2 separate regions of the Homo sapiens genome follow, and region 1 is reported to be linked to region 2. Evidence: microRNA targets listed by miRTarBase, many of them from high-throughput screens and not tested one by one. Region 2 holds a microRNA gene; the other region holds the end of a gene's coding sequence.
Evidence for each region. The annotated mature microRNA hsa-miR-4677-3p reads UCUGUGAGACCAAAGAACUACU and lies in region 2 at 1,932-1,953, opposite strand. An mRNA with a match to its seed (bases 2 to 7 or 8) in the 3' UTR can be bound and repressed. Matches are read on the target gene's strand: a 7mer-m8 pairs with bases 2 to 8, a 7mer-A1 pairs with bases 2 to 7 and ends in A, and an 8mer does both.

Region 1 (3,000 bases), not on the chromosome of region 2:
GCAGAGTCTTAATAGCCAGGGAGGCTCAAGATCTCTTCCCGCAGGAAGGGCCATGTGGGTAGGGTTTTGTAGGAAAAGTAGGAGTTCAGCAGTCAGGCCTTGGACAGACATCCAGATCTCTGGCCTGGGGCCAAACAGCAGGACAGACACCATGGTCTCACTCAACCCTCAGATGTCCTGTGCATTGGATAAATGAGACCTTGCTGTCCAGTTTGACTGGAGTAGACATGGACCCACTCACTCACAGGACACCATGGAGAGACCCTGACCTAATGCAAAACCCAGTGCAGCCTTCAACGAGAACCTGGTGTCCTCTCCATCCCGCCCCTGCCTCAGTTCCCTTCTGGGAACGTGCCCACAAGAAACCCTCACTGACTCCACAGGAGGGGCCTAATCTCTCGTCTTCCAAGGCTTTCTTCAAGATGGACATGGGGAGACTAGGGAGCATTTTGGCAAACTGGGGCTGCTTAAGAGCTGAGCACTGGCCCAGCAGGCAGCGTGACAGACTTGACTTCTTCCCTTGCTGTTTTCAGGAGGGCATCTTTCTTTTTTTTTTTTTTTTCAGACAGTCTTCCTCTGTTGCCCAGAGTGGAGTGTAGTGGTGCGATCTCAGCTCACTGCAACCTCCGCCTTCCAGGTTCAAGTGATTCTCGTGCCTGAGTCTCCCGAGTAGCTGGGATTACAGGCTCCTGCCACCACGCCTGGCTACAGAAGGACATCAGTGAGAGGTGCCACCCCCACCACCATTCGGGCCCTTTCTCTCTGCCCTACAGCTCTGGTGCTGAATTCCACAGGTGCCTTTCCCACCACAGAGCTGTGCCACACACTCCCGAGGCTGGGACGGGAGAGTCCCTGGTACCCCACATGATTCCGTATCAACCCAGTGAAGCCCACATTTCAAAGTCTTGGCCTTGTAGGTGCCTGACTCCCAAACGTCAATCTCTGAAACAGATTTTTAGTTCCATGTGAGAAAAAAAACTGAAGTCAGATTGACTCAGGCACAAAAGGGGGGAGACTGAGTTCACAGAACTTAAAACACCCAAGGGTTTCAGGTATGGCTTGATCTGGGGCTCCAAAGGCATCTTGGGAAATTGATCTTCCATCCTTGGCTCTGCTTTAATTAGATTCTCCCAGTTCCAAATCCCACCGTGCAATCTCACTGGCTAGTTTGGCATCCCAGGGCCTCCATAAACCAGTTGCTGTGGCCCAGGGAATGGTGGTCTCTGATTGGCTCGCCTTACATCATGTGACAGGACTGGCCCCAGAGGTTTCTCCCAAGGACATTGGAGCCCAAACAAGATTAAGGGCCCGGCAGCTCATGCCTATAATCACACCACTTTGGGAGGCCAAGGCAGGTGGATCACCTGTCAGGAGTTCGAGACCAGCCTGGCCAACATGGCAAAACCCCTCTAGTTAAGGTACAAAAATCAGCTGAACGTGGTGGTGCGCACCTGTAATCCCAACTACTCAGGAGGCTGAGGCAGGAGAATTGCTCCAACTCGGGAGGCAGAGGTTGCACTGAGCCAAGATTGCACCACTGCACTCCAGCCCAGGTGAAACAGCGAAACTCCATCTCAAAAAAAAAAAAAAAAAAAAAAAAAAAGATTAAGGTTGACCAAAAGAAAGTAAGTGAGGCTAGGCACAGTGGCTCACGCTTGTAATCCACTTTTGGAGGCCTCAGGTGCATCACCTGAGGTCAGGAGTTCGAGACCAACCTGGTCAACATGGTGAAACCCCATCTCTACCAAAAATAAAATTAGCTGGGCATCGTGGTGGGTGCCTGTAGTTCCAGCTACTGGGGAGGCTGAGGCAGGAGAATCGCTTGAACCTGTGAGGCAGAGGTTACAGTGAGCCAAGATCACGCCACTGCACTCCAGCCTGGGTGACGAAGTAGGACTCCGTCTCAAAAATAAAAAATAAAAATAAAGACCAGGGAGGCTGTGCAGGTAGGAAATGTCTTTATTATTGGCCTTGAGTCATCATGTAGTGTCTGACATAGGTTACGTGTCCAGAGGATCTGCCTGGCACACGCTAGCTACCCCTGCCCACTGGAGCAGCCCCTCTGGCCGACGCCAGGCCTTTGTCCATCATGCCAGGGAAGCCAACCCCACCATCCCACAAGTTCATGCTAGGGGTGCTGAGGAACAAGGCTGTCCTAGGATTGGACCCTCCATCCTGGACAGGGGTCCTGGGGAGGATGAGGCTGAGGCCTGGATGATCAGTCTCTTTTTGGTTTCATGATCATTTAAAAAACAGAAAAGACAAACATTTCACAGTCTTTAAAAAATAGAAGTCTGAGGAGAGAAGCCAGAGTCCTGGGCCCCGGGAGGCCCCTCGAGGCCTCAGCATTCCCTGTCCCTTGAGGTCTGTCTGCAGGCCTGGCCACAGCACACGTGGCCCCGTCATGGTCACTGGCCCGAGCCGTAGGGCCAGTTGAAGGTACTCCCCGACAGCAGCATGTCTCTGATCAGTGTCTCAATGGGCGTCTTCCCCACCAGGCGCATGAAGAACAGCTGGGAGATGAGGGAGGCAGGGACCGCGCGCAGGGCGGGGAGCCGCAGCAGCAGGCGCCCGAAGCGCTGGGGCTGGGACGGGTACTGCGCCCGCACATACTCGGTGAGGGCCACCTGCGCCTTCTCCTGCAGGCTCTCAACGTGGGCCGGGTCTGAGAGGCCACAGGCGTCTAGGGGGACAAAGGCAAGTCAGACAGGTGGGAGGCAGCTAGAGAACACAGAGCCCACAGGGGTGACTAGGGGACACCACTCGCCACTGTGGGTAAGAACAGGGGGCCGGGCATGATGGCTCACGGCCACAGTCCCAGCACTTTGGGAGGCCAAGGCAGAAGCATCATTTAAGGCCAGGATTTGAGACCAGCCAGGGCAACATAGTATGATCCCTTCTCTGCAAAAACAAATCAGCTGGGGCTGGGCACAGTAGCTCACGCCTGTAATCCCAGCACTTTGGGAGGCTGAGGCAGGTGGATCACTTGAGGTCAGGAGT
Region 2 (3,251 bases):
TGTGGTCCCAGCTACTCGGGAGGCTGAGGCGGGAGAATGGCATGAACCCGGGAGGCGGAGCTTGCAGTGAGCCGAGATCGCGCCACTGCACTCCAGCCTGGGCGACAGAGGGAGACTCCGTCCTAAAAAAAAAAAAAAAAGAAAAAAAAAAAAAATGCATGTCCAGCCTGGGTTGGTGAGGGAGGAGGGGCAAGGAGAGAGAGACTGAAGAAGAAAGGAAAATGTTTTATATTTTAGTTCTTTTTAATATCACTTCTTTCCTGCTTTCTGAACAAAAGGGTCCTGTATTTTCACTTTGCACTGGGCCCTAATCAAAGGTTAGCGGCTATAAAGAATCGTCTTCTCAGATTAATTTACCAAAAGGGAAGTTGACAAAAAAACTCTATTTCTGCATCACTCATTTCAGGTCAGCTCATCCTTGTCATGTTAGGGCCTCCTGCAACATGTCCAAATCTTAAATACAAGGCTGTGAAATTAATGCTGAATTTGGGGTTTCGGATGCGAGGAAGCTCCTTTTGGGATATGATTATCAGGAATGCTGCGTGGTAGCCATTTCCTTCACATACTTTGCTGTAGGATTAATTTATACCTCTTTAGAATGACAATGAGGCATTTTATAAAAATAAAGCATAATCAAAACATTATGTACAAAATTTAACAGACAACAACAAAGAAAGATGAAATTTTACTAAGAGTTCTGTTTATTTCCTATTAAAAAGGGTAACACCAGAAAATTGGACATACAAAAACATACTTGTTCTCCTAATTTGAATAAACCAACTGTAAAATCAACATTTTTGAGACAAAGAAATGTGAATATAGGCTGGGTGTTATTTGATATTAAAGAAGTATTGTTAACATTGTTAGGTATGATAATGACATAGTATGTAAAAATATCCTTCATAGATCCACATGGGTATTTATGAGTAAAATAACATAAGGTCTGAGATCCATTTAAAATACTTCTGCAAAAGAAGAAAAAGAGGTAGAGGAAGAAGACAGAAGAAGATGAAGATGAGAAGGTGGAGCAGAAAAAACATGACAAAGAAGATGAAGGTGACGATGAGGACAGAAGTAGAGAGAAAAAAGTGAGATAGATGGAATAGGATTGAGGAGGAGGACTGGCAAAATGATGAGTGATGGAATAGGATTGAGGAAGGGGACTGGCAAAATGATGAGTGATGGAATAGGACTGAGGAAGAGGACGGGCAAAATGATGAGTGTAGGTGATGGAAATGTGAGGACTCATTACAATATTCCCTATACCCTCATACATGTTTTTAAATTCCCCTGATCGAGTGTGTGTGTGTGTATAACCATTGCCTAAAAAAATTTCTCATAAAAATCAAAGAGCATATTTCACATTCTCCTCCATACCAAATGCCTCTTTTTCTGGTGCAAGAAGCATCCTCTGAGGCTGACAGGAATTCTCTAAGCTGAAGAGATACAAAGGAGTTGATGGGAAGGATAATCCGCCCATCGGTTCCTGACACAATATAAAGAAGAAAAGAAGAAAGTGGGTGGAAGCGACTGCCATTGTTACTCTCCTAACCTTTCCTTCTAATTATGCCAGAGCCAAGGCTCAGGTCACAAGGAAAATTATTTTGGTGGTTAACCATTTGCCCTATTTTGTATACATCAAAAAAGCTGTTGTTCTCACACATTCCAATCTCACAGTTTCCCACCCACTTTAAAAATGTATCAAGTGGTCAGATGAACTAAAATATGAATAAAATGACTATATTATGAAGAACACCTTGTTTGCAAACCTACAGATAGCCTGCTTGTGATGCTGAATTGTAAGATACACAACACTTAAACATTTAATCTACTTTATATTATTGTAGGTATTTCAGATAAATGCTCAACATGCCCCGCTTTTAAAAGTTAAATGTAAATTTCTCTCTTGAGTGCAGATGGTGGCCAAGCAAAGTAGTTCTTTGGTCTCACAGACAGAAGGTCAGGTCATGGCTGAAAGACCAAAGAACAATTGCTGCTTTGCTACTCCAAATCATCCATGGAATGAGACACCACGACTTCTTTTCTGAAACTGTCTGTTCAATACAAAACAGTTAAAAAGAGTACCTATAAGATTTCCTCACATTCCGTCTGGGAAAAAAAAATGGTAACAAGCACATCACTTCACAACACATCACAAACATCTTGTAACTGTTCAGAGGTTTTATTCCTAAAGCTGTGACCTCCTAAAAAGGCACATCTCTATCTAAAAACATACCACTAAACGTCATTATGAAAACTACTATTGTTTCACTATTATCAGAAAACGTTTACAAATGAAAACTGCTCCTTGTAAATCCTGCAACTTTAGCCTCCATACCATCACGGATTAATTAAAATGAGATTTAATACTGCAAATACTTCTAATATTGCAAATGCTTCTAAACAAGTTATTCCTTTACAAGTGATATTATACTCCTATTGTCCCTGATCTTTTTTCCTCTAGAAAATTATAATGGAATTTTAAATAACTGAGACTCTTTCCTGATGTATTTTTGCAGTTAGTCCAAAATATTATGCTGTCAGAATGCTGTAGAATAATACGAAAGGCCAAAAGTATGCCAATATATTGATTCCTTTTTAAAAAATTACAATATATCAGGAAAGAAAAGTTATCTGTGATAAACTTAGTAGACCTAGGCCTTCAGTCCCTGACAGAAAGCATTTTCCATTCCACTATCAGGCACGCCCCCAACTGGATGCAATAAAATGTTTCATTATTTGTACATGTTAATAATTAAAAGTCTTCTGAAAATGTAAAACCCATTACAACACCAAATATAGTGGTACAAAAGCAGAATTTTACTTTGGTTGCCAGGATTTTAATTTAGTACTAAGGATTTCAGTTATGACTTGAAAAGCTTTTTGTTCTAGTCTTCATTATCACTTTCATTTTCAATACTTTTCCCAATTGTCTTTGCATCATTTGTTGTAAAGACTTCATTGGCTCAAAAGAGAAAATATGTTGGAAAATATGATGAAAAACCTCGAACTAGAAACATATTTGAAAAAAAACTTATTTGGAGCGACCTACTTCTAAATTCTAAAACAATTATTTTAAAATATTGACACTAAGAACCCAGTCTTACTATTTTAATTGAATAAACAACCTGCTTTCATTGAATACAAAGAATGAAAACCTTCAAGGTCCTGTACTGTAACATAAAAATAGAAAATCAAAAGTCAGCCTATTAGAACTGCCTCTCTAAAAACTTTATCCATGTTGTCAACTA

Region 1: the mRNA of NR2F6 is a reported target of hsa-miR-4677-3p. The part of its 3' UTR that is shown has no 7-base or 8-base seed match.

What each region holds. Positions count from the first base shown.
Region 1 is chr19:17,229,944-17,232,943 of GRCh38, forward strand. NR2F6 (nuclear receptor subfamily 2 group F member 6) reads right to left here. Exons shown (of 4, transcript NM_005234.4): 4 at 1,940-2,683. The coding sequence ends at 2,409. Among named protein-coding and RNA genes, the nearest start is that of OCEL1, 5.2 kb to the left of the region's middle.
Region 2 is chr1:243,344,927-243,348,177 of GRCh38, reverse strand. It overlaps MIR4677 (microRNA 4677), which reads right to left and starts at 2,002; the gene lies at 1,923-2,002. The region is part of intron 12 of SDCCAG8 (SHH signaling and ciliogenesis regulator SDCCAG8); the gene reads right to left.